Homo sapiens: one gene and its partners. The protein of the gene in region 3 interacts with the protein of the main gene of each other region in a pairwise test. Each region holds a gene or a part of one and is shown on either strand. Other genes may lie near its edges. The genes, in order: WWOX, CPT2, OTX1 and ZNF330.

Evidence for each region.
Region 1: the proteins of OTX1 (region 3) and WWOX interact in binary tests that used the Homo sapiens proteins (3 or more experiments, as listed by UniProt).
Region 2: the proteins of OTX1 (region 3) and CPT2 interact in binary tests that used the Homo sapiens proteins (3 or more experiments, as listed by UniProt).
Region 4: the proteins of OTX1 (region 3) and ZNF330 interact in binary tests that used the Homo sapiens proteins (3 or more experiments, as listed by UniProt).

What each region holds. Positions count from the first base shown.
Region 1 is NC_000016.10:78,109,629-78,116,660, reverse strand, and holds part of WWOX (WW domain-containing oxidoreductase), read right to left. Parts: intron 6,884-7,032; coding exon 6,826-6,883; intron 1,686-6,825; coding exon 1,507-1,685; intron 1-1,506. UniProt on the Homo sapiens protein: Putative oxidoreductase. Acts as a tumor suppressor and plays a role in apoptosis. Required for normal bone development. May function synergistically with p53/TP53 to control genotoxic stress-induced cell death.
Region 2 is NC_000001.11:53,192,093-53,199,823, reverse strand, and holds the start of CPT2 (carnitine O-palmitoyltransferase 2, mitochondrial isoform 1 precursor), read right to left. Parts: upstream 3,001-7,731; 5' UTR 2,881-3,000; coding exon 2,729-2,880; intron 1-2,728. UniProt on the Homo sapiens protein: Involved in the intramitochondrial synthesis of acylcarnitines from accumulated acyl-CoA metabolites.
Region 3 is NC_000002.12:63,053,821-63,058,354, forward strand, and holds the end of OTX1 (homeobox protein OTX1), read left to right. Parts: intron 1-111; exon of another isoform or gene 112-226; coding exon 227-378; intron 379-1,680; coding exon 1,681-2,496; 3' UTR 2,497-4,011; downstream 4,012-4,534. UniProt on the Homo sapiens protein: Probably plays a role in the development of the brain and the sense organs. Can bind to the BCD target sequence (BTS): 5'-TCTAATCCC-3'.
Region 4 is NC_000004.12:141,223,874-141,230,905, forward strand, and holds part of ZNF330 (zinc finger protein 330), read left to right. Parts: intron 1-613; coding exon 614-633; intron 634-733; coding exon 734-804; intron 805-2,893; coding exon 2,894-2,973; intron 2,974-5,697; coding exon 5,698-5,824; intron 5,825-6,292; coding exon 6,293-6,397; intron 6,398-7,032.

The DNA of each region.
Region 1 (7,032 bases), on a different chromosome or scaffold from region 3:
CTTAGATTGGGGATCCAGCCATTGTTTTAAATATTACGCCATCAGTTTTGACTTCAATGACAATTATATAAAATTTACTCCAATGCAGAAGTTCAGACAAGTGGATTGAACATATTTGGAGCCCAGGATGAGGTATGAGAGTTGATTTGAAATAAAATCCTTTCAATTCTTAAAAAAAAATTTCCATTTGCTTCTTTACCTTCATAGGCAAGTACAGTAAAAAAATTCTCCACTCGGATGGCAACCTGGTAGATTTCACACCTTGTACAACACAATAATTGACCCTTGAACAATGTATTTTTACCTCCTGTGCCTCCCTAATCATGCTAGAAAATATTTCTGCAGCTTCAAGGAATTGTTCAAAATTAAGAAAGAAGTGCAGATGGTTAATGGGTACAAAAAAGATAGAAAGAAAGAATAAGACCTACTATTTGATAGCACAACAAGTTGATTATAGTTAATAATAACTTAATTGCACATTGTAAAATATCTAAAAGGGTATAACTGAATTGTTTATCACTCAAAGGATAAATTCTTGAGGGGATGGATACCCCATTCTCCATGATGTGACTATTTCACATTGCATCCCTGTATCAAAACATCTCATGAACCCCATAAATATAGACACCTTTATATACCCACAAAAAATAAAAATAAAAACAAAATTAGGAAAGAGAAACAAATGAGTAGAGGAGGGCATCAAGGGGGCCGTGTGAGGGCTGCGGGGGACCAAAAGGACAGAGAGAACTTGACAGAAGACAGCCAAATGCAACGTTTCATATGTCGACAAATCTGAAGATGCATATCTAAACTCAAAGCAGGTGGTTCTCACTGATTCAGATACTTATGTAAATAGATCAAAGCAAAATCAGAATAAAATCCTATGAAGAGTTATGGTTTGCTCCCGCCTTGCTCCTGTCTCCTTAATGGCCCATCATATTGAAGCAAGGATACCCTCTTGAGCCATCTACCCATGATAGTCCCTGTGGGTAAACATTGGCAATTAAGAGGTGAAGACAGGAACTCATTCTCCAATTTTATAGAGAAATAAGATCCTGTGCCCAAAAGAAAATGATATGCTCAGTGACCAGTCGAAACCTGTAGTATCCTTTGTTCCAAAGACATAATACCTTGTTGTTCCCCGTATTCTATTACCAATCAATTTTGGTTTGAATAACCCAGGTAATTGGAATATGCCCATACACCATGCAGACCAGGTCAAAAACTCTTAGACGGAGCCTGTTGTCTCTCATCCCTGAATACCAAAATAGCCACAGTCTTTTGCTGAGTGTTCAGCTTTCAGAGACTTCAAGGTCAGCCCCTACACAGGCTTCCATGACAACATTAGGATTTAAAAAGAGGTAGTGATGTTAATGAAACGATATCTGAAAAGGATAAAAGTCATGTTTAAATCAGAGAACCACTAAACAAAATTCCATTATAGCTAGATCTAAGTGGATCTCATTATAGCAGTCCCAAAGATAAATAACTAAGTGAAGAGCCTACCTATTCCTGAATTAGCTCCAGTGACCACAACCACTTTGCCAGTGAAATCCCGGCCCTGGAGAATTTCCATGGCAGTGGTGCTGCCGTCGTATCTTTGCCGGGTGGTTGGCTTGGTCGGATTATCATCCACAGTAAACGCCAGTCTTGGGTCCAAGTAGGTGGTTCTTTTATTTATATGGCTGCCCAAAAGAGAAAGCAGTGAACCCACAGCAATGAACACAGGCATTTATAAATATAAGACAATCTTATACTTTAGGAAAACCCCATTTTTCATAGACCAAAATGCTTATTCCTTAAACCTGAAAGAACTGGGGCCCACTGAATCTATCTTCTGGCCTCCAGAAGGATCACATTTGTGCCAAAAAAAGATAGTCATCGAATCCTTTCCTTCAGAACTGCCTATAACATACGCTGTAACATACAATAACTATTGCCATGTATCCTTAGATCTCAAAAAAGGCTTCTTGAGAAGGTTTTGGGCTTTTATGTAATTCATGTAAATGTAGCTATAAGATCTGTCAGCCACTCTTTTCAGTAGATTTCAATTAAATCTCTTAGCCCTGTGCAAGGGCCTAAAGACGTAGAGAAGTAGAAAACTCAAAATGATAAAGTCTTAGTTGTAAATAAGAAACCTGCCAACTACCAAAATTCTAACGATTTTCATTTTAAGACTCTGCACTCATACCTCCTACGAGCACTCATTTTGATTTGGAATTGATCTAAATCTTGTAGAAATGGTATTAAAATATACTGGAGGCTGGGCACAGTGGCTCACGCCTGTAATCTCGGCAATTTGGGAGGCCAAGGCAAGAGGACCACTTGAGCCCAGGAGTTCAAGACCAGCCTGGGCAACATAGTTAGACCTCATCTCTACAAACACTAAACAAAATTTCAAGTGTGATAGCACACGCCTGTAGTCGCAGCTACTTGGGAGGCTGAGGTAGGAGGATGATCACGTGAGCCTAAGAGATCAAAGCTGCAGTGAGCCATGATTGTGCCACTGCACTCTAGCCTGGGTGACAGACCAAGACCCTGGGTAACCATTAAAAAAAAAAAAAAAAAAAAGGCACATATGGATGAAAAGAGTACTCCTTATAATAGAATTTACTTTTTATATCTTAAATGTATTCTTGGGATATGAGATAAAGACCTCAGAATATCTTAAAAACTATTAAGAAGCCTCTAAATATAGATGAAATTTCATATTTTAAAAGTATGTGTGTGTAAAATTAGTTTAAAATATATACTCATCTCCCTATAAGTACCAAGACTCAAGAGTAATAATCCAACCTTTATTCTAATTATTACCATCCTCATCCTCATTCTATTTATAACAACCTTAATTTGTGACCCCAATATTATACACACACAACAGAGCAGTTCTATGCTAGACTGGCTCAAACTGGCTTACAAGAGCCAAACGTGACTATCTCTTCCCAATTCCTCACTTCACCTTGGCAGCATGAAATCAGCTATGGCCAAAGTATTTATACTGTGGAAACAAACAGTGGCTTTTTTCCCCCTGAAGACCTGGTGCTAAACATTTACCAGCACCCCACTGCAACAGGCTCAGAAAAGTGAGAACTAGCCAGGGGAGCCAATTTCCAGGTTCCCCCCAAAGCCCTTGCTTACTCCTCTAGATTAGACCAGGAGCTGGCCAAATCTGGCCCACTGCCTGTTTCTGTAAATAAAGTTTTATTGGAACACAACAACGCCCATCACTTGTATATTGTGTATAGCTGCTTTAGCACTACAAAGGCAGAGTTGAATCATTGCAACAGAAACCATATGCCCTGCAAATCCTAAAACATATTATCTAGCCCTTTACAGGCAAAGGAGACAGCCCCTGCTCTAGACGGGAGGCTCTCAAGCTAGGGAACATCAGGATCCCCTGGATGACTATTAGAGCGCAGATTGCAAGCCCCACCCCAGTGCTGATTCAGTAGGTCTGGGGTGGGGGCCTGGGAATGTACATTTTTATTGAATTCCCAGGTGATATTAATGCTGCTGGTCCAGGAACCATGCCTGAGAACTGCTGCTCTTGGTTGATTAATACCCATTTCAGGGAGTAACTTTCCAAGCGTGAATGCAAAGGCAAAGACTGCACAGGAGAAAATTGATTTGACTACATAAAAAATTTAAGAAATTCAGTCAGGTGTGGTCGCTCATGCCTGTAATATGAATGCTTTGGGAAGTCAAGGCAGGAGGATCGCTGAAGGCCAGAAGTTCAAGACCAGCCTGGGCAACATACTGAGCCTCAGTCTCTACAAAAAAAAAGTCTTTAAAAATTAGCTGGGCATGGCAGCATGAGCCTGTAGTCCCAGCTCCTCAGAAGGCTGAGGCAGGAGGATCACTTGAGTCCAGGAGGTTGAGGCTGCAGCGAGCTGTGACTGTGTCACTGCACCTCAGCCCTGGATAAGAAGAGCAAGACCCAGTATAAAAAAAAAAAAAGAAAGAAAACTTGGAAAAAAAAAAAAAACATTTTCAACATTTTCAACATACAACCAATGCGTTGATACCCTTAATTAGTTGAGGAAAAAAAACTTTCACAAGTTAGGCAAAAAGCCTTTTAACAAATAATAGGCACTCCCACCTATCCAACTGCTAGACAGCCCCGTCTTCCTGGGGCTGCCTATGGTGGCCTGGGAGACTTCTCTCAAGCAAGCTTTGGCCTATTTGCTCTCAATATCAGTTTTGCACCAAAAGTTCACCAGGTTTGCTCAAAAAACACACATGTCATTTGAACTTGTTACTGTAACTACATTACCAGCAAGCTACTATTACACAAACTGATAACATGGGAGGTGAAAAATAGTGTCAGTGGTATCTATGAAAATGTGGTCGAATGCTTTGGAGAGCCTCAAAGACAAGCAGCTAAAAAAAAAGTTTTGGTTCAATCAACTACAGTGAAAATGCTAGAAAAATACCATAAAACTCCCAAATGATGTAGCAATCAGATTCTTTGAAAATACTGTGTTTGCTCAACCTTAAAGTTGTAGGGTCCAGCCCTACTGGGCTTAGCGGGTGTTCTCCCCGTGTGCAGAGACGAGGGATTGTAATAAATAAAGACACAAGACAAAGAGATAAGGAGAAAACAGCTGGGCCCAGGGTGGGGGCCACTACCACCAAGATGTGGAGACCGGTAGTGGCCCCGAACGGCTGGGCACGCTGATATTTATCGCATACAAGACAAGGGGGCAGGGTAAGGAGGGTGAATCTTCTAAGTGATTGACAAGGTGAAGCAAGTCACGTGATTACAGGATAGAGGGCCCTTCCCTTTTAGGTAGCCGAAGCAGAGAGAGAAGGCAGCATACGTCAGCATTTTCTTTTCTGCCCTTAAAAGAAAGATCAAAGACTTTAAAACTTTCACCATTTCTTCTACCACTATCTACTACGTACTTCAAAGAGGAACCAGGAGTACGGGAGGAGCATGAAAGCGGACAACGTACGTGACCATTGAAACACAGCACCACAGGGAGGGGTTTAGGCCTCCGGATGACTGTGGGCAGGCCTGGATAATACCCAGCCTTCCACAAGAAGCTGGTGGAGCAGAGTGTTCCCTGACTCCTCCAAGGAAAGGAGACTCCCTTTCGCGGTCTGCTAAGTAACGGGTGTCTTCCCAGACACTGGCGTTACCGCTTGACCAAGGAGCCCTCAAGCAGCCCTTATGCGGGTGTGACAGAAGGCTCACCTCTTGCCTTCTAGGTCACTTCTCACAATGTCCCTTTAGCACCTGAGCCTATACATGCCAGTTATTCCTAGGTTATGTTAGTAATGCCACAAAGAGTAATATTAAAAGCTAATGATTAATAGTGTTTATAGTAATGATTGATAATTGTCCATGATCATCTCCATATCTAACCTGTATTATGACTATTCTTATTCTAACTACTTTCTTTATTATACTGAAACAGTTTGTGCCTTCAGTCTCTTGCCTCGGCACCTAGGTACTCTTTCGCCCACATAAAATGAAAGTAGAAATTGTAGATGTTATGTTACAGGCATGCTTAGGGGAAGGAAGACCACACTGGATCCATGCAAGTGGACTCACACTCAGAGGAGGGCTGGCCCGACCCCTAAATGTTGGTGTACTTGAATCAAATACTGAAACGTTTATGTTACATTCATAACTTTAAAAAAAAAAAAAATTCCTGCTCAAATCAACTTCTATTAACCAACCAATCCTAATCCTGTCAAAGACTATTCAAGCTTCTAATTTAAATGTTGACAGTTGTGAAACATTAATTCTCCTCTTAACTACGGTGGTCAAGAGTACAGTCCCTGGAGCAGGTGCTGGGCTCAAAGCCTGGCTGTGCTACTTCTTTGCTGTGGGATCCTTAACAAGTCACTTACCCCCTCAAGTCTGTGTCACTGGCAGTAAGCTAGGGATAATAACAATACTACCTCTCAGGGCACTGTGGGGATCCAATGACCTAATGCTACAGATACAAGATGATTAGAATCAGGCCTGGCTCATGCTATATGTTGGACAGGTGGTTACTATTGCTGCGTGATACCGGAATTTATCCTAAAGACAGAATCAGAGAGGTGAAAAAGTCTTACAGATAAGGATGCTCAATACATTATTTATAATTATAGGTTCTCTATAACAGGAATTTAGCATTAATGTCCAATAGGCAATTTGATAAATTATAGTATATCTGTACAAAATAATAACTCTAGAGCTGCTAAATAGCATCTTTTTGAAAAATAGATATGGATACAAGAAAATGCTCATAATATATTACATGGAAAAAGCAGGTTACTAAACAGTCCACACAGTGCATTCCCTCTTTTTTTTTTTTTTTTTTTTTTGAGAAGGAGTCTCATTCTGTCACCCAGGCTGGAGTGCAGTGGCGCGATCTCAGCTCACTGCAACTTCCGCCTCCTGGGTTCAAGTGATTCTCCCGCCTTACCCTCCCGAGTAGCAGGGACCACAGGCACGTGCCACCACACCCAGCTCATTTTTATATTTTTAGTAGAGACGGAGTTTCACCATGTTGGCCAGAATGGTCTCGATCTCTTGACCTCAGGATCCACCCACTTCGACCTCCCAAAGTGCTGGGATTACAGGCATGAGCCACCATGCCTGGCCTCCCTACTTTTTTTTTTTAAGGATGCGTGTGCGGGGAAAATAGAAGAATAAATCTAGCGATGTTAAAAGTTCCAGCGATGTTAAAAGTAGTCACTTCTGCTAAGATTACAGATACACACTGTTATACTTTGTATTTTTCTACAGTTACTATGTATTACTTTTATAATTAAAAATTCCTATTAAAAAGCAAAACAGCTGAGAGTGGTTTCTTTGCAGACACTTACTCAACAAAAAACACTTGTCCGTTCTCATCAGTTTCTTGTTCCCATCCGTATGGCAAATCTGAAACACAAGAAAGACAGGTCTACAGGTGCCAGGGAGAAGTAAAGACCATCCCTGGGTCAGGAAGGGAAGGAGCCCTCCCAGCCCCGCCCCCAAGCCTGTCCCTCCCACCCAGCAGTTGTCACATCAACTGGCTTTCGTCACATGTT
Region 2 (7,731 bases), on a different chromosome or scaffold from region 3:
GTGGTTCATCAGTTTATTTGTAATGCATGTTTATCCATAATATGACAAAAATAAATCAATTATTTACTGCCATTATGGACTTAGACTGCACTAAGTACCCATTTACAACACTTTAACACCACAGATCCCCTTACATTCACTGACTTACTCAGAAAAATTCCAAATACTATCTCAGCTACCTCATAATTCCAGTTGCCTACATATGTTTAAGATTTAGTTTTATTACAGTAGGAATATTCATGAAAGTTTACCTTCTTCCTTTTAAACAAAATTCTAGATTAGAGACAATGGCAATTTGATTTAAAAAAGTCCTACTTAAAAATTTCTGGAGTGAAGCTGGGCACGGTGGTTCACACCTGTAATCCCAGCACTTTGGGAGGCCGAGGCAGGCAGATTGCTCGAGTCCAGGAGTTCAAGACCAGCCTGGGCAACATGGCGAAACCCTGTCTCTATAAAAGATACAAAAAATCAGCCAGGCATGATGGTGCATGCCTGTGGTCCCAGATGGGAGGCCAAGAGCAGATCACTTGAGGTCAGGAGATTGAGACCAGCCTGGCCAACATGGTGAAACTCCATCTCTACTAAAAATACAAAAATTAGCTGGGTGTGGTGGCACATGCTTGTAATCCCAGCTACTTGGGAGGCTGAGGCGGGAGGATCCTTTGAACCCGGGAGGCAGAAGTTGCAGTGAGCCGAGATAGGGCCACTGCACTCCAGCCTGGGCAACAGAGCGAGACTGTCTCAAAAAAACCAAAATAAAACTGTGGCTCAATGAAGTGAACAGAATTGCCCCAAATTATAGCTAAAGACTTGCAGATCCAGAATCTGCAACTACATTCTACCAGACCTCAAAGTCAGGGCTTTTCACCAAGTGTGACATCAATGAGTGAGTGTGAAAGATTATACATTTTACCAGTCTAGAATCTGAGCGACAGAAGGAATCTCATCTCTCATCTAACTCCCAATTTACAAATAAGGTAATGGAGGTCTGGGGGAGGTTGGTTGCTTAAGGTTATGCGTAGGTGACTAGTGGTACTATTTGAACTGGAGTTTGAATTGGTACCTCCAGATTCCTACAGACTGTGCTATGGATGGGGTTGGAATAAATAATCTTGAATATTCTTTCCAGCTTTCCAATTCTAAAGTGCAGAAAATCCCTCTGATCTTAAACCTGGGTGGGGCCCAGGCCTGCCTGAAAGTCAGTGACCATCTGACTCTGAACTTGGCAAGTGAAGACAGGTTCTGTCAGTCCTCACCTTTCACCCATATACTGGCTCAGCTCATACACACAGGTTGACAGGGTGGAAGCATGTACCAGGCTTATGCCACAGGCACAAAGCCCCTTTTTCTTCCTCCCTCCTGCCACGTGTAGATAATCTCATTTTCATGTCTTAGATGTTTGCACAAAATGTAATTTCACAAGAATCACTCGATCCTCCTGAGAGGGTGAGGGTATGTAGTGATGACGTTGGGTTAAGTGGTCCCAGATGCAGAGAAAAACAACCCAGCAGCTCGGGTGAGGCCTGTGACACAATGTTCCACACATGGGGAAGAAGCCTGGCCTCTAGCTCTTGGAGTGTGGGGAATCCCTGAGGGCAGTTTGGTGAGAAATAAGGTGAGAAGGGTCTTTGAGACAAATTTTGAACTTGGCTCCAGGAACTGAGTTACTCACTCAGTAAGTTAGAAGTTAGTTTAGGTTTGGTTTAGAGGGTGAAGAAAATTTCTAATATTGAAGAAGGAGATCTGGCAACTCAGACGAAAGCGGAGTTCGAAGGCTGGAAGAACTGGAAGCTGGATTTAAGAAAGTACTGGGGGAGGGAAGGGGAAGAGGATTTACTAGGGCTCTTTTCAGAGGGGAAGTCGATTCTGGGTGAAGTGTTTCGAAGGCAGGGTAGCCAGTGGTGAGGAGGAGAAGAGAAATTTGGGTGGACCCTGGATCTGAGTATGATGGAGTGTGGATGGGGTACTGAGGGTGGTGTCTAGAATTCTGTGAGGGTGAGCTGCACTTACAAGGGGTACTGTGGGTGAGGAAGGATATTTTGAGGGGAGGAACCTGTTGAGGAGGGCTTGGAGAGAGTGAAAGGTTTCCGGGTGAACACTGGATTTAGGAGATTAAAGATTTAAAAACATGGGGGAGGGTCAGTTGAGGACAAGGGTGAACACTTCAGGGCTGTGCTTGTGGGGGCTCATGGGGGGTGAAAGAACAGAGTACTGGAGAAATGGGAGGTGGGGCTGAGGGTCCTGAGTGACAGGGGTGAAGGCGGTGCTGGGAGAAGTTAAGGAATGGTAACCATGATGTATTAGGAATCAGCCTACCCATATTCCGGGTAGGAATGTGAGGCAGTCATTAAAGTACTTCAGGAGACACCATAGTCGAGGGATTACAGCGGCGCTGGAAATATGCAGGTCTGGCATTTTTCAGGGAGAAGAGGACTCAGGATAGCTGGCTGGAAGTTAGGTTAAAGGAGAGGGAATCTGAGAAGCGTTCAAGATGGAGAATCTGAGATAGCATCGAGGGGTTCTGGAAGAGAATTTGAGGGTTCTGAGGTTCCTGTGCTAGGAGATTGTGAAAAGTCCCAAGACTTCCAGATTAGGGGCTGTGGCAGCCTCCATGGTAGGGGCTTGGGGGCGGAAACGGGTTCACTAGAGGAGTCATGAGTGACTGCAGTCAGGTTGGGGCCGATCCTGGGACGGCGGCGGGCGGCGGGGACCCGGAGGCCAGGCTCACCTGGGCAGGCTGTCCTGGTAGTGCATGGTGGGCACGATGCTGCGCTGCAGGTACTGGCCGGGCCCGGAGCCGGCGCTGAGGGGCCGACTGGGGGCTCCCGGACCAACCGCGGGGCCCCGGGGCCAGGCGCGCAGCAGCAGGCGGGGCACCATCGTCCCGGGAGCCTGCGGCGGCGAGAACGCGGCAAGTGGGGAGTTCTGGAGTCTAAACACAAGGCCGCCGCCGCCGTTAGCGCCCAAGACACTGCGTCAGGACTCCTGAGGCACTTCTCCGCCCGCAGGCCACTTCCGGCCCCTGTAAGGCCATCGGCTCCGCCCCGGACTGGCTCCTTCCGGGCAGGGGCCGCTCACTGACAGGCCCCGCCCACTAGTAGGCCCCGCCCGGAAGGGGGCCCCAGCCTCCGCGCTGCTCGTCTCCCTTCCCTTCCCTAGGAGGCGGGAAACCGAGCGCCGCAGCCGCTCCTTCCCCTTTTTTGGAGCAAGACAGAAACTGGAGTTGGAAAAAAAAAAGAAAAGCTAAGAAACGTGATTGGAATCTGATAACCCAAAATTTGATCCAGGCTCCATCCTTGCGAGACTGTGGACTAAATTTTAAACCTCTATTTCCTCACCTAAGAAGTAGATAGATCGTAATGATTCAAAGTACCTCCCAAAATTCTAGATATGAGATAAAGATAACATGTTATGCACAGTGCATGGTGCTTAATAGGAAAGCAGTAAACGGTAACGGATGTTACTGTTGTTAGTAATCCGTGCTGAAGGTCATTGACATATAATGACCCTGAACCCTGCACAGCTACTGCCCTGCCAGCTCACCTGAGTGGATGGATATTAGAAAGGATTTGTGCAGGAGTTGGAAACCTGGAGTTTCCCGCTGGCCACCACTTCAGTGCAGAAAGCCCCTTCCGAGCGGAATCCCCTCTGCCTGAACATCCATTCTTGGCTTGAGCATTTCCAAAAACAAGAAGCTCACTGCTAAGAGGAAAGAAACCCTTGTCCTCCGGCTCTAGGAAGTCTTCCGTGTTCAGTCTATTGGAAGAGGCTTCCTGTCACCACAGACCACCTCCAAGATTCCTTCCAACTCCTGACTCTAAGATTCCGCTACTTGAACATAGATCTATCATCCCTCATCCATCACAAAACAGCTGCAGAACAGCCCACCACGCCCCAATCCCTGATCTTAGAAGTAGCTGCAGGATTAAGTAGGCTCTACTCCCATTTTACAGAAGAAGACAGGGAGTTACCAAAAGACACACAATTATGCTGCCTAGCTTGAGGCACAACAGAATTCCATTTTGGGAACAGAACTGCCCTTTAGCCGTTTGGGGCAGCCAAGTACATTCTGTCTGTTCCATAATTGGCTAAGCAGAGCCAGAAGCTGGAGCACACCAGAAAGAGTACTGGATTGGGAGTCAGGAGACCGGACTTTTAGTTTCAGCTCTTTGTTATCTAGTTAGGTGACCTCGGATTGAACAGGAAGATCACTAACCAGCTCTGGCACTCATTCAGTGGTGATCACAAATGCTTAACCCATTTCCCGTTTAGAAAAAAACAGCGCAGCTTGCTGCCAGCTCTTATTTCTTAGGGCAAATGGGAAATGGCTTAAGAACTAAGCATGAAATTCAGAAACACTGAATATCGAATCCTCCTCTCTTGAGGGGAGAAAAGGCCCAACTGGCCCAACTCCAAAACATCGGTGCCATTTGCCTGTAGTGTATAAGGCCAGAGGGAGAATATAAAACTCTTTCTGAAAATGAGCCATCTCCTCTAAATCCTGATCATTTTCAGAGCCTTGATACCCGAGGCAAATATCGAGATCTGTGTAGTGCTAAGGGGATCAGAGGACCAGGAAGAAATAGTGGGCCCAGTAGAAAAGCAGCGGCTCTATTCTAGAGACAGAGGGCCAAAAGATTGAGCCCATCCAATCTAACAGCCAAAAGAGGGACGTGAACACCTTTGGTGAGTGCATGGCCAATGGGAGCAACTCTAAGCCTTTAGGCTGGTGTCCAAGGCCTTCTGAATTCTGACCCCTACCTACTTCTCCAGCTCCCATCATGTCACCCCAAAATACTCTATGCCAGGGGTGTCCAATCTTTTGACTTCCCTGAGCCACACTGGAAGAAGAATTGTCTTGGGCCACACATAAAATACACTAATACTAATGATAGCTAATAAGCAAAAACAAAACAAAATTGTAAAAATATCTCATATTTTAATAAAGTTTACTAATTTGTGTTGGCCTCATTCAAAGCCATCCTGAGCTGTGGGTTGGACAAGCTTGCTCTATGCTGTAGTAACACTGAACCACTTCTCATTCCCATCCTTTTCCTTACTCTGCGACTTATTTATTTATTTATTTTAGCTGTCTCTGCTGCCTGGAATGTTCTTTCCATGCATCTCTGCCTAGTAAACTCTTACTTGTCCTTCAAACCCTATTTCAAAACTCACCTCTTTGAAGTCTTCCTCAATCCTCATCCTTCTTCCTCACTGCAAGAATGAATCCCTCCCACTGTGATTTTACAGCACTTTTTACATTCATTTACAGTTATGTACATGAAACACAACTGTATTAGGGCTTTTAAAATAATCAGCTATTTAATTACCAATTCATCTCTCACAATAAATTTTGAGGTCTTTGGGCAGGGACCTTGTTTCCACTGTGTGTCCACTGTGTCTAGCACAGGCCTACTGTGGGGAGGTGCTTTGCTTCCTTTTCCTGGGGATGGCCCTGGGGTCTGGATCACATTAAGAATAACCATGAGCTGGTAGTCCAAAAAGTCCATATATTGCTGTGTAAGGGTCAAGAAAGTTCCTCTACTTAGAGAAAGATCCTGAAGAATACATTGTTTCTATTGAACTAATCCCCAGAGTTCTGCTCTGTTTTGAATTAACTATGAAAAAGCAGTACATGATGGCCAGGTTAAAGTCATATTCATCTTCAAAATCAAAGTTCTGAAAAACAATGAACTTTAACTGGCTAGCAGTAGAGTTCACATTTCAACAAAAAAGAGGTCCAGTTGGGTAAGTATGACCAAAGAAAACAAATGTGACCACCCAAATATTCAAAGAAATGTCAGGAACTAGTACCTAGAGTTGGCCTGGCAGTCCCAAGTTCTCAGGTTCTATTGGAGCTTACCTGGACTAAACAGTGCTTGAAATGAGGAAATTCATAGGCAAGACCTTGAAAAGCCCTGCCTATTTAATGGGATTTGTTAAAATGAACTCTAACCCTTTTATAAATATTGAGTATGTGAGAAAGTATTTAAATGCAAAAAAGTGAAACCAGAGTATTAAAAAAATGCTCTCTCTGCCCCATAAAGGAACTTTTAAAACATACCTGTGGACACATTAGATATTGTAACTAAACCAATCAATGAGAAATTCATGGTATGTGGGAAAAAAATCTGTTCCTTTTAACTTTACAAGGAATCTGATGTTTCGTTTTTGAAGCATTGCTCAGAACTGCTGGAGAAAAAGAATCGATGTACAGAGCATGAAGAACTTATTGCATGAGGGTCTACGGGGAGTGACAAATACAGTGTACTTTTGAAGGATCCAGAGGACCAAATTTATGCATCTCAAACATGGTCCTGGTCATCTGGGCTGGCAGGTTTCTGGGCTCCTGGTTCCAAGGATGCAATGGAGAATGGGGGTTGGGGAGGAGGTAGAGACTTGACCCATAGCTAACATCTTCTGGGGAAGGGCCCTAGAGCAGGAAGGCCCTTGCCCCTCTCTGGCCCCTCTGGCAATAGATTCCTGACTTCTGTTGCACTCCTGTATGCATTTAGCTCTTCTGAAGTGAGGAAGGCTAAGCTCAACTCCAGCACCCTCCAACTGTCACCATTTTCACTGTGGATTTTTCTTGTGGAGGTAGGCCTCACCCACCTAAAGCCCCAAGCCAGTAGCCAGGTAGAAGAAGGGAGGACAACTTTTAAACTCTAAAATAACAGCCTGGTCCAGCTCCTAGGTGCAATGGGATTATTGTAAAAGACCAGTTTCCAGTGGAAAGTGGAACTTTGCTTCCTCACTGGGTCCTTAGGTTCCAGTTTTCTTTATGCCCCTTTGCCAATTTCATTGAAGGAAAGAACTTTAATGGGGCTGTGTGTGTGTGTGTGTGTGTGTGTGTGTGTGTGTGTGTTCTGGGTTAGTGAAAATGTCACCAAATTCAGCAACATAGAAACCCCAGTCAAAAAAATTTAAGATTGTAGAAGAAATGGACAAATGATGACAAAAGGAGCTGAAATCAAGAGTTTGGTATTTTAGCTAGGCACAGTCCTAGCTACTTGGGAGGCTAAGGCAGGAGGATAGCTTGAGCCCAGGAGGATCCCTCAAATTTGAGGCTGCAGTGAGTGAGCTATGATCATGCTCCTCTAGCCTGGGTGACAGAGTGAGACCCCATCACACACACACACACACACACACACACACACACACACACACACACACACACACACACAGAGATAATACAGGCAGGTGACACGGTTTGGATCATGGGGGCAGATTTCCCCCTTGCTGTTCTCTTGATAGTGAGTGAGTTCTCATGAGATCTGGTTGTTTAAAGTGTGTAGCACCTCCTCCTTCACTCTCTCTCCTTCCTCCTCCAGCCATGTAAGACATGCCTGCTTCCCCTTCATCTTCTGCCGTGATTGTAAGTTTCCTGAGGCCTCCCCAGCCATGCTTCCTGTACAGCCTGTGGAACCATGAGTCAATTAAACCTCTTTTCTTTTCTTTTTTCCTTTCCTTTCTTTTCTTTTCTTCTTTCTTTTTTTCTTTTTCTTTTTCTTTTTCTTTTTTTTCTTTTTTTTTTTTTTTTTTTTGATATGGTCTCACTGTCTTGCCCAGGCTGGAGTGCAGTGGTGGGATCTTGGCTCACTGCAACCTCTGCCTCCCAGGTTCAAGTGATTCTCCTGCCTAAGCCTTCTGAGTAGCTGGGATTGCAGGCGCAGGCCACCACATCTGGCTAATTCTTGTATTTTTAGTAGAGACTGGGTTTCACCATGTTGG
Region 3 (4,534 bases):
AGGGGCAGCCCTCGAATCTTGGAGACACTGGCTTCTAGTCGCACATCTGCACTTTCTCCCACCTGTGGCCTCTCAGGCTCGGCCGCCCGAGGGAGTTTCTTTTATTCCCAGTTCGGCTTTCTTTTGCGAAGGCCGAGATCTGGGCCTGCCAGGGGCCTGCCCGAGTCCTCTATCGCGGGTCCACGTGGCCACCAATGACCCGCGGCGCCCCCGCGTGTCCCCGCAGCCACTCCGCGGAAGCAGCGGCGGGAGCGCACCACCTTCACGCGTTCACAGCTGGACGTGCTCGAGGCGCTCTTCGCCAAGACTCGCTACCCTGACATCTTCATGCGGGAGGAGGTGGCGCTCAAGATCAACCTGCCGGAGTCTAGAGTCCAGGTGCGCACTCCCCGGGCTCCAGGGTCTGGGTAGGGGAGCTGAGGCTGCTCGGGGAAGGTCTAGGAAGGCTCTTGAGTAGTTCTTGAGGAGACCATCCTGTGGGGGTGGGCTTACAGACTGGGCAGCCGCTCTCGGACTCCCCCTAGCGCTGGGCCCCAGCCAGGAAAGGGGGCAAAAGTTAAAGGAAATGGCTTAGAGCCCTGGATTCCGCCTTTAGCCCTAGGGCGCCTTCGGTGTCGGTATCGAAAGTACTTTTTAGAATTGCCGGAGGACTAGGGAAGCTCCCGAATGTAAAGCGCCCTGCGGGCCTGACACTTGCCCCTGCTTCTTCGCCTGCCCCAGGACTTGGCAGTTTCCCTTAGAGGCCTGAATTCTGCCTCTGCCCTTGTCTTCCACCCCGGGAATCCTAGAAATGGAAGAGCGGAGATTGGCTGGAGCCTGGTGCTCTGCCTGGGTCTCATTAGACGCTTCCTCTGCTTACAGAGGATGCTAAGTGCAAAATCCTGCTGCCGGCTTTCTTATTTCTGTTTTTGAGATGAAAGGGTTCCGATGATAACGTTCGGATTCTAACTCAGAACTCTCCTCAAGAGTCTCGCCTCCTTTACTCGAAAGCTTGAGAAGGGGGACCAGGAATGCAGTGCCATGTGCTGGGGCTCTCCTAGAAGAGTAACCATTCCATTTGGTTCCCCACCTGGAGCCAAAGGGCCAACGAAATCCCACCCAGGCTTCCTTCCCGAGTCCCTCAAGTACTACCTCTGTTTAGCCTCTGGCCTTGCTCCTACCCCCACCCAAATACTCGCCCTGCCCAGTTCTGGCCTCCAGGAGCTGCTCAGTGAAACGGCTCAGGCCCTAGACTTGGTGACTGTTCCACACTCTTCGGCTCTGTACCTCTCCACTGTTGCCTGAGCTCTGTTAGTAGAAAACTGGGCCTCCAAACACACACGGGGCCTCCAAACATACACGGAAGCAGCCAACAGCAGCAATTTAGAGATGGCAGAACTTCTGACTGGGCAGACTGAAATATTCCGCCCTAGGGCAGAGTTGCGGTAGGGGTGGGGAGGTGCGCATCCCTGCTCTGGAGCCAGCTGAGGAGGGGCTTTGAGCAGAAGGATGGGGGAGGGTGGAGGAGCTGGGAACCGAGGTAGGGGGCAGGGTCTGGCCAGGCCAGAGACAGGAAGGGGCGGAGGCCTCGGTGAGAAAGGATTGCGATATTCTGGACCGGGAGTTGGGTCCGCGGGGCGGTGGAGCAACAAGCTCCCCTAGCTCCCTTTGACCCACTCTCCCCCATCCGGCCCACTGCAGGTCTGGTTCAAGAACCGCCGCGCCAAATGCCGCCAGCAGCAGCAGAGCGGGAGCGGAACCAAGAGCCGCCCAGCCAAGAAGAAGTCCTCTCCAGTGCGGGAGAGCTCGGGCTCCGAAAGCAGTGGCCAATTCACGCCGCCAGCTGTGTCCAGCTCTGCCTCGTCCTCTAGCTCGGCGTCCAGCTCTTCCGCCAACCCAGCGGCTGCAGCGGCTGCGGGACTAGGTGGGAACCCGGTGGCGGCCGCGTCGTCGCTGAGTACACCAGCTGCCTCATCTATCTGGAGCCCGGCCTCCATCTCGCCAGGCTCAGCGCCCGCGTCCGTGTCGGTGCCGGAGCCATTGGCCGCGCCTAGCAACACCTCGTGTATGCAGCGCTCCGTAGCTGCAGGCGCCGCCACCGCAGCAGCCTCTTATCCCATGTCCTACGGCCAGGGCGGCAGCTACGGCCAAGGCTACCCTACGCCCTCCTCTTCCTACTTTGGCGGCGTGGACTGCAGCTCATACCTAGCGCCCATGCACTCACATCACCACCCGCACCAGCTCAGCCCCATGGCACCCTCCTCCATGGCGGGCCACCATCATCACCACCCACATGCGCACCACCCGTTGAGCCAGTCCTCAGGCCACCACCACCACCATCACCACCACCACCACCAAGGCTACGGTGGCTCTGGGCTTGCCTTCAACTCTGCCGACTGCTTGGATTACAAGGAGCCTGGCGCCGCTGCTGCTTCCTCCGCCTGGAAACTCAACTTCAACTCCCCCGACTGTCTGGACTATAAGGACCAAGCCTCATGGCGGTTCCAGGTCTTGTGAGCCCAGGAATGAAAGAGGAGAAGAAACGCAACTACCTGCGCCCTCCGTGGTCCCGATCCTGTTGCTGCTGCTGCACCGCCCGCCTTTGCCTCGTCTTCTCCAAAACTGAATTTTCACCCCCCAAAAAGATGTCCATTGCCTGCACTGCCGCCCCCATTTTTGTGCCACTTGCTTGGGGGGATGTGCAAACCCACCCTGCCCCTTGGATGGGGGGACCGGTGCTTCGGCTTGGCCTACACATTCTATACAGGAGAGATGTATTATTTCCCCCCTTCAGCCCCTACTAAACTCTTAAGCCTCCCCTTCCAGTCTTTCTGGACAGCTATTAAGCACTTGCAGCCTTCGGAGGCTCTGCGCTCTGATCCGCTGTTTGAGCCCAACACTTTAATTTATTCTTTCTGGACACTGGAGTCACTAACTGGCGTGTTTCTGCCCATTGGAGCACCCGCACACTACTCCAAATCAAAACCACTAAGAGTTCCTCCCGCGCAGACTGCTGCCCCTTCAGCTGCCCTCGATTTTGCTCCACGCCTGCCGGCCAGAGCCTCCCGGCGTTTCTTCCGCCCCAGCGGAGTGCGCTGGGGCGCGCCAGGGCTAGGCCCGCCGGAGGAGCGCGTCCCCAGCCTTCCGCGCACAGAGCCGCATCCCGCCCCGCCCTGCGCTGGACTGGTTCAAGCTTCCGCCTCGGCGGGAACGCTGTACATAGTCAGGTCCGTTCCAGGGACCACTTAAACTTTTTAGTTGCTGTTGGTTGGTTGAACTGAACATATCTTGTCTTAGCACCCAGGAAACAGAACTTTAAGATATATACAGCACATATATATATATATACATATATATATACACATATATAAAAAACAAAAGCAAAAAATATTTTCCCTCTGTCCGTCCCCCTTCTGCTCTTCCTCAATCAATGGCGCTTTTTCTTTTTCAGTTGTTGCAAAGCTGCCCTGCCCTCTTCACATCTTCTCCCTCTGTGTATTTATTGAAGAGAACCGCTTGGTTTCAGGAAGCTGGGCGCGGGATATCCGAAGTGTGGAGGAAACAGACAAGTCAGGGTACAGAGGTGGGGGTTGGGCAGGGGCGCAGGGCTGACCCCCTCACCCGGTCTAAGCACAGGGTCGCAGTTCCAGTTTACAAACCTAAAACAAGAAAACCAAAACCAGGGAACAAAACAACAAAACAAAACAAAATCCGTAAAAGTACAGCATTAGGGAAAAACAAACAAACCCAGGCCCCAAACCCAGTTCCAACTCCTCTGTCGGCTTCTCTCTTTCAACACCCTTGTTTTGTCTAGTGAGTTTTTAGTGCACCTTCGTTCTCCGAAATCTGCGGAGAGCCCGCGCGCCTGTGTATCAATTTTGGCTTTGGCCGCTTCGTCCAGTAGGTGGGAAAGTAATTTGTAAATTTGATTTGTCTGATGTGAAGATCACAAATTACTTGTTGAAATGTAAGGCAGTCCCCCTCCTCCTCTTTATCTACATTACTTCCCGAAAATAAATGCAAATTAATGAACGGCTTGTCAGTGTTGCTCTTCTGATTCCAGCCCGAGGTCCTGGTCTCGGGGGGCTAAAAGCGAGGGAAACTCCGTGTTAATAACCCGCGTGTTAATGACCTGCGTGAAGCTGGAGGCCAAAGGATGAGGCGGGAGGACTTGGCAAGAGAAGTCCCCAGAAACTTTCGCTTAGGGAGTGTCTCCCCCCACCCCCACCACGCCCCTCCGCGTCAGCCTGGCCTCTTCCCCCAGGCGTTTTGACCCCGCATCCCCCCTCGCCATCCAGGACAGAGACAGGTGTCAGGACTCAATTCCCGAAGCAATTCCTTTCTCTTCAGAGGCAGGAGCCTGGCACTGATTTCTTCACCCTAATTGCCTGCACCAGAAAGAAGAGGGGGAGGGGAAGAGGGTCGGGAGGCGGGAAAGGATAGCTCTGTAATGCTCTCAGAGCTGAGCCAAAAAGGAAAAGAAAGCAAAACGACAAAAAACTGATCCGTGTCCTGCATGTTGGCAGCAGACAACCTTCCTTGCTGCTGAGCTGTC
Region 4 (7,032 bases), on a different chromosome or scaffold from region 3:
AAGTGTTCGAATAAGTAAAGACATGGAGAAGAGAGAATATAAGACATATTTGGAGAATGGCTGACCATTAGTGACTTGAGTCTAAAAAGAATAGGCCAAGAAGGTTTGGAAAGTGATTAGGGGCCAGATTGTGGAGAGCTTTTAAAACCATGTTTAGGAATCTGGATTTTCTGTGAACTTTATTATTTTGTATTCTCTTTGGAACGGTGCCTTAGATAAATGCATTATTTTAAGGGTCACCCACTTCATTTGGAATAATATGTGCTTAACGTTTCATAAGGCTTAGAATGTACTTAACTATCAAAAGGATAGTTCTTGTGTTCATTCTGTGGTATTTTATTCCTTACAAACAATTGAAAAAGAAACTACCAATGTATTTAGCCTCCTTTGTGATAATGCCACTTCTTCAGGGAATCATATACCCGGAGTATCACTCTCGCATACCTTTGTTATTTTAAGCATGGGTAGGTGCTTGTATACATGGGTGGAGTTGGGGCTTTGGTGTAGTGTCACTTAAATTTTAACCTGAAAAGCAGGTTATTCTTTGTAATACAAGTAAATTTGCAGTTTTCAGTCAGCAGAAAAATTAATGTGATATTTTTATATGTTACAGGAATGTGACAAGTGTCAGAGGTAAATTTTATTTCTTTTTCTATCTACCTTTAATAAAATTGTCCCTCTGACTTTTTATCTGACATTGACCATAATTTAAAATTTTATTTTACATGACAAGGCGGCAGAAGAATAGAGCATTTTGCTACTTTTGTAATTCTGTACAGAAGTTACCAATTTGTGCACAGTGTGGTAAGTTTGTAATAATTAAGGACATATGCTTTTTATCAACTGGTAGTTCAACAATTTGAACTTGGGTGGGTTTGTTGCTATTGGTTACAGTGCTTACAATTGTTGATAATATTATGCCTTACCATTAACAAAATAACAAAACATGTTATTTTGCCTACCAAAAAACTATCAAGCCTTGGTTTTGTCTCTTTGATGTAATGCTGGAAAATAATTAAGGTACAATTTAGATACAGGTTACCAATAAGTGTTTTTAAACAGTGAAAGATCAGATTTCAGACATAACATTTGGTGATCCTGAACTTTTAGTTATACTACCTTAGTCTTGTCAGTATCTGTTTGTTTACTTATCTACATTTTGATTCCTGCTGATATTACCTGCAGTGTGTTAGACCATTGGGAATAATTTTATTCCACATTTACCTGGTACTTATTTTGTGATCAGTAGTTTTTGTGTTTGATGCTTACCATATGATTCATGAGTTTCCTCACATGTATTCCCAGGTGATTTAAATAGAGTTCTTAAGTCATGTGCCCGGTTCTTAAGTATAGGTGGAGACTTGTACCCCAAAATGATTATACAAAATAAAACTAAATGTTAGCAAGATGGGTGTTTCCCAAATAGTCTTCCACAGACTTCCTGAAATATTAATGGATATTTCTTGAAAAATATATATCGATATACATTTGAGAAATACTGCATGCATCCTCCTTTCATTCTCATCTGGGAGATTTCTATTATATATTTATATGTTAGAAGTTCTGAAGACTTGCAACAAAGAAACCCAATTAACTTTATTACTCTAGATTTACATCCCCCCCCAACTTTTGATGAACAAGTATTGCTTTTATTTATGAGATAATAATAATAATTTCAGGTAGAACAATTTGGGGTATGCTCATTTAAGTGTGTTTATATGTAATAATATTCCAGAAAGTTAGTAGTGTTTAGGGCTATATCCCTGAATATTTCTAATGTAGTTCTAGCTTTCAAAGAAGATCTTTTCAATTCCACAATTAATGAAAAAGAGAAAACTGGCCTATATGGAACACTCATATGGTAGTTTTCATAGCCTTGTTTTGCAAAAAGTAATGAATGTAGAGTGAGGAAACAGAGTTTGTGGAAGATTAATAGGTAAGTTCTTGCTAGGACTTACCCCTATTTTCAGTGTCTCTGGGCTTAAATTTTGTAGTGTTGTTAGATGGATACATTTCTCATTTACTGATTCTTAGTGTTGGACATGGAACAGTTGGGTAGCTGCTGCCTCTCATTTCCAGTTTCTCTTCCCATTTCCTACTAACTTTGTTCCTTAGGAAATCAAGATAACGGAAAATTGTTTCTTTTGTGTTCCATTTTGTGGAGTCTCAGATGGATGATTAATGTCATCATTAACTCTCACATAATATCTGATAAGCAAATTTCCTGATAGTGTTTTGAGTTGGTAATTTAATTTGCTTCTAGATCAGAGGTTTAGTGGCTGTGTGGTGATTTGTAGCTGTATCACCGTATTGTTTATTGTGCTTATTTGGGCACTATTTCAAAATTTTGTTGGGAAAATGTTTAACTGGGGGCTTCGTTGTAAATTTTTATGTTTGGATAAAATTACATTAACTCGATAAGTTACATAATCATTATTTGGTTTGGTTTGAGGTATTATTCTGTGGAAAGAAATAACTTCAAACCACAGTTTTTATTGTGAATTATAAAATGTAAAATTTGTTATAAAAAGCATTCCTTTAAAAATTGTTTTGAATAATCTGAAGATTGATAAGTTTTTAAACTGTTAAAATGATCATTAGATTACAAAGCATAACCTGCAATTTCTGATTTAGTACAAATTAGCATATATATTGTATAGTTCATTTTACAGATTTATTAGTAAATGTATAATCTGAAAAGTCTGATTCGAGTAATGAAGTCTCAGTTATATCCATTTTCTCTTTCTAGTTATGTAAGCAGTAAATACTGATTCAATTTCATTAGTTTTTAAATTATTTCCTCAGGAACTTGGGCTGGATAAAAGGAGGAATTCGTGAGTACTGGTATGTATTCCTTTGCAAGACTAACAGTGCAAATGTTTTTCTTCATTAGGGAAAACAAAGTGCATGATGAAGTCTTCAGACTGTGTCATAAAGCATGCTGGTGTATACAGTACTGGCCTTGCAATGGTGGTAAGCTTCTTATTATCTCTTAGACTAGTACGTTTTCAAGGATAAGAAAATGTCATTCTGATCAGTGGTTATTTTTTTCTAAATATCATTGCTTTGTCCCTTGTTTCAATCAATCTGTAGTTATCTGGATTATGAGTGGCATGCTTTTTGTATGATTTTCCCTTAGTACCCACTTGTTTCTAGCTGCTTCTTTCTTTCTTATTAGGGAACATACAAGGCATGGAAACTTTTCATGCTGATCTAAACAGAATTTCATTTCTCAGTGGTACCTTTTTTTTTTTAAATTTTATTATTATTATTATACTTTAAGTTTTAGGGTACATGTGCACAACATGCAGGTTTGTTACATATGTATACATGTGCCATGTTGGTGTGGTGCACCCATTAACTCGTCATTTAGCATTAGGTATATCTCCTAATGCTATCCCTCCCCCATCCCCCCACCCCACAACAGTCCCCGGTTTGTGGTGTGTGATGTTCCCCTTCCTGTGTCCATGTGTTCTCATTGTTCAGTTCCCACCTATGAGTGAGAACATGCGGTGTTTGGTTTTTTGTCCTTGCGATAGTTTGCTAAGAATGATGGATTCCAGCTTCATCCGTGTCTCTACAAAGGACATGAACTCATCATTTTTTATGGCTGTATAGTATTCCATGGTGTATATGTGCCACATTTTCTTAATCCAGTCTATCATTGTTGGACATTTGGGTTGGTTCCAAGTCTTTGCTATTGTGAATAGTGCCACAATAAACATACGTGTGCATTTGTCTTTATAGCAGCATGATTTATAATCCTTTGGGTATATACTCAGTGGTACCTTTCTAATATCTCTTAACCAGACTTCACAAAACAGTATTTAGTGTACCGAAAGCCCTGCTTAACCAACGTTTAAGCCTTTGGTTAAATAAGCAACTTAGTTCCAAACGAACCTAGGATAATAGTGTTCTTTAAAACTTTACATTTCAAAAAAGTGTATATATTTAACATACCTCTTCATTACATATAGGATTTTTTAAAGTAAATTCAGCTTTTTGAATAATAAAACCAACTGGATTATGTGATGTATTTTGCTCTTTTTCCTGAAACATGTTTTCCTTCTAAATATGAGTTAACCAGTTTTACTGTATTGCAGTATGATTTTATGTTCAAATAAAATTTTGTTCAAATTTTAATCTATGAGGAAAATGATACTATATTTATGTCAAATGGAATATTTTATTTATGGTAAATTTCCAAGAACATGTAAACTTCTATTATGAGGGAGACCTATGATATATTTCATATGTGCATATATTATAGAAGCAAGGAGCGAGAATTATCATCTTGTGAATTGCTCTTTATTTTAAGTATAGGATTGTCAAGTTATCTTTATTCAAAAACACTTTCAGTCTTCCTTGGTAGCTTAAGTTCAGCCAAATTCATTTTTTAAAATCACTGTTTTTTGAATGTGAATAATTTCTTCTTACATAAAGAAAACATTTAAGTAGAGTCATATATCTTTAGTTGTAAATTCTAGAAAAGTGATTTTCTGGATATCTTCTATTTGCCTCCCCAGATTCCCCCTGAGAATAGCAGGAGAATAAGATCTGGGTGTTTATTCCTTCATCTCACTCCGTACCAGGTTATCCTGGTTTGGTTTTATCCTTTCTCTAAGGACCACAGTTCTCCCTATATGGCCAGGTAGTCCTCTCCTGTTTGTCCTAAGAACTTCCCTGTCCTCTGCAAATTATCTCTTTAAAACTCTTCTAGATTACCTAGTTTGAGAGTACCATCTCTTTTTTGCAAGAACCCTGGCTGATCCAAGAGATATAGTTGATGATTTGCTAGCTATACTGATAACCCATTTTTGCAAGTCAAAAAACATTCTTCCTATTTGTTGTTTACTACATTTGTTTCAGAGCCTTGAATAATAGAATACTGAATTGAGATTCTGAAATCCTGGCTTTAAATCTCACCTCACCTGTAATCCAACTCGGGACTTGGATTTAGTCTTGGGCCCCATGCTTTTCCTTTATAAAGGAAAGATTGTCTGATCCTACTCTCTTAAGATTCTTTCTAGCTTTTAATATTTGGTAGGTGTCAATGTTTTATTGAAACATATTGTTATTGTCTTTTCTTGATATAGAATTGGAGAATCTTACCCTGTATTTTAGTTCCATATATTTTACTTCAAATTTTTTCCACAAAGAAATGTAATTATTATTAAAACATAAGTTGTCATAAGAGAAAAAAAGAAGCTGGCAGAAGTTTCGTATTTCTCAGTAATTCTAGAAAAGCTATGCAAATATATAGATAAGAAGGTATTTTAAAAATCAGAAATGGTAGTATTTAAAAATTCAGTGTAGTTACAGGAATTATTATAGACAAGAAAGCTTAAGCTGTTGGTTCCTTCAAACTTTATTTGAATTAAATTCATTTTGAGGAAAATACTTCCATCTCTTTGGCTTAATTAAATAATATTAGGATAAGTGTACAGTTTACCTTTTTTTCTTTTGATATGTAACTGAGTTTTGTATATTGTGGATAGCTGTTAAGAAGTTGTTTTTCAGAGAACCCTTTTTATTTTTGGCTTAGAGTGAGTAGTAAAATGTTTAAATGAAGCGGCCTACTATCATTGAGGGTTGATAAATTGCTAAATGTATACAGTTTTGATGGTTGCCGTGGTTAAAGAATGGTTGCAGGTGGTCAGGTGATAATGATTATGTATTCTTGTTCCTTGGTTACAGGGTGCAATATGTGACTTCTGTGAAGCTTGGGTTTGCCATGGTAGGAAATGTCTCAGTACACATGCTTGTGCCTGCCCTCTTACCGATGCTGAGTGTGTTGAATGTGAACGAGGCGTGTGGGACCATGGTGAGTCATTAGACACAAGTAATGAGCTTTGTTATAGGTGAATGTTGACTTTGAAACATTTTGAATGCTGTTTTTGAGATTTTTTTCAGGATACTGTCAATCCTAACTACTGGTACTGTTTTGATTATCAGTGTAGTTAGAGAAGGGATCTATACTGTCTGTTATTGTCAATGCTAGTATTGTTTACCCAAACATGGAGGGAAGTTGTGGTGGAGCAGGTAGTCTCTTTGAGCATTGTGAGTGTTATATGGGTAGCTAGTGGAGAGTAAGAGCCCCCTTTTCTCAGTTTCAGTTCAGTTTCAAGGACTTCAACAGTTTTCATTTTAGCTTTTATCAGAATAAAAATGGCTGAACAATTTTGGTGTATCTCCAAAGTAACTTACCATCTCTTCTAAGCAGTATTATAGATATGAGTTTTTTTAAATTAAAGTTTATCTTAATTACATTTGTGTTTTTTTAATCCAATAGGAGGCAGAATATTCAGTTGTTCTTTTTGCCATAACTTTCTCTGTGAAGATGATCAATTTGAGCATCAAGCCAGCTGCCAGGTTTTAGAGGCAGAAACATTTAAATGTAAGTTTTTAAGTATTAGATGTTCTTTATACCCAAGATTCTGAATAGTATAATTATTAATCTTAATGAAAAAGGAATCAAGTTTTTTTATACTGCTTCTCATGAACTGTAATTTAACTCAGTCTTTATTTTCTGTTTCTAGAAAACAGAACAGTCAGAATATAGTTGTAAATTTTTCAGCAGGGATGCCAGTGGCATATTGGTTGGGCCAGTTTTTCATTTTGTAGGCTTGATTTGATCAGGCATTGCAGGACTTACACCTTTCGTGGTTCAGAGTACCACATGTCATTTTTACCTTCAAATTATTATAAAAAACCAAACCTCACCCTTCCTTCCCATTTCCAAATGCCCTCCCGTAAGAGATACCACCCTGTTTGTTTCTGCTAGTTGGTTCTAGTGATTCTTAGACAGGACTGTATATCAAAAATACCTGTGGAGGTTTTAAAAATAATGTAGATGTCCAGGCCTCATCCCTGGAGATTCTATCTTTTAAGTCCGTGGTGGGTGCCAGGCACCTGTATTTAACCTATACACAAAATTCTCACGTATTTTCCAGTTGAGAGCCAGCATTGCTGACTGGGTAATAGTATCATCTTTACACATAGTTTTTTTCTTGGAAGGTTCATTGAAATGAG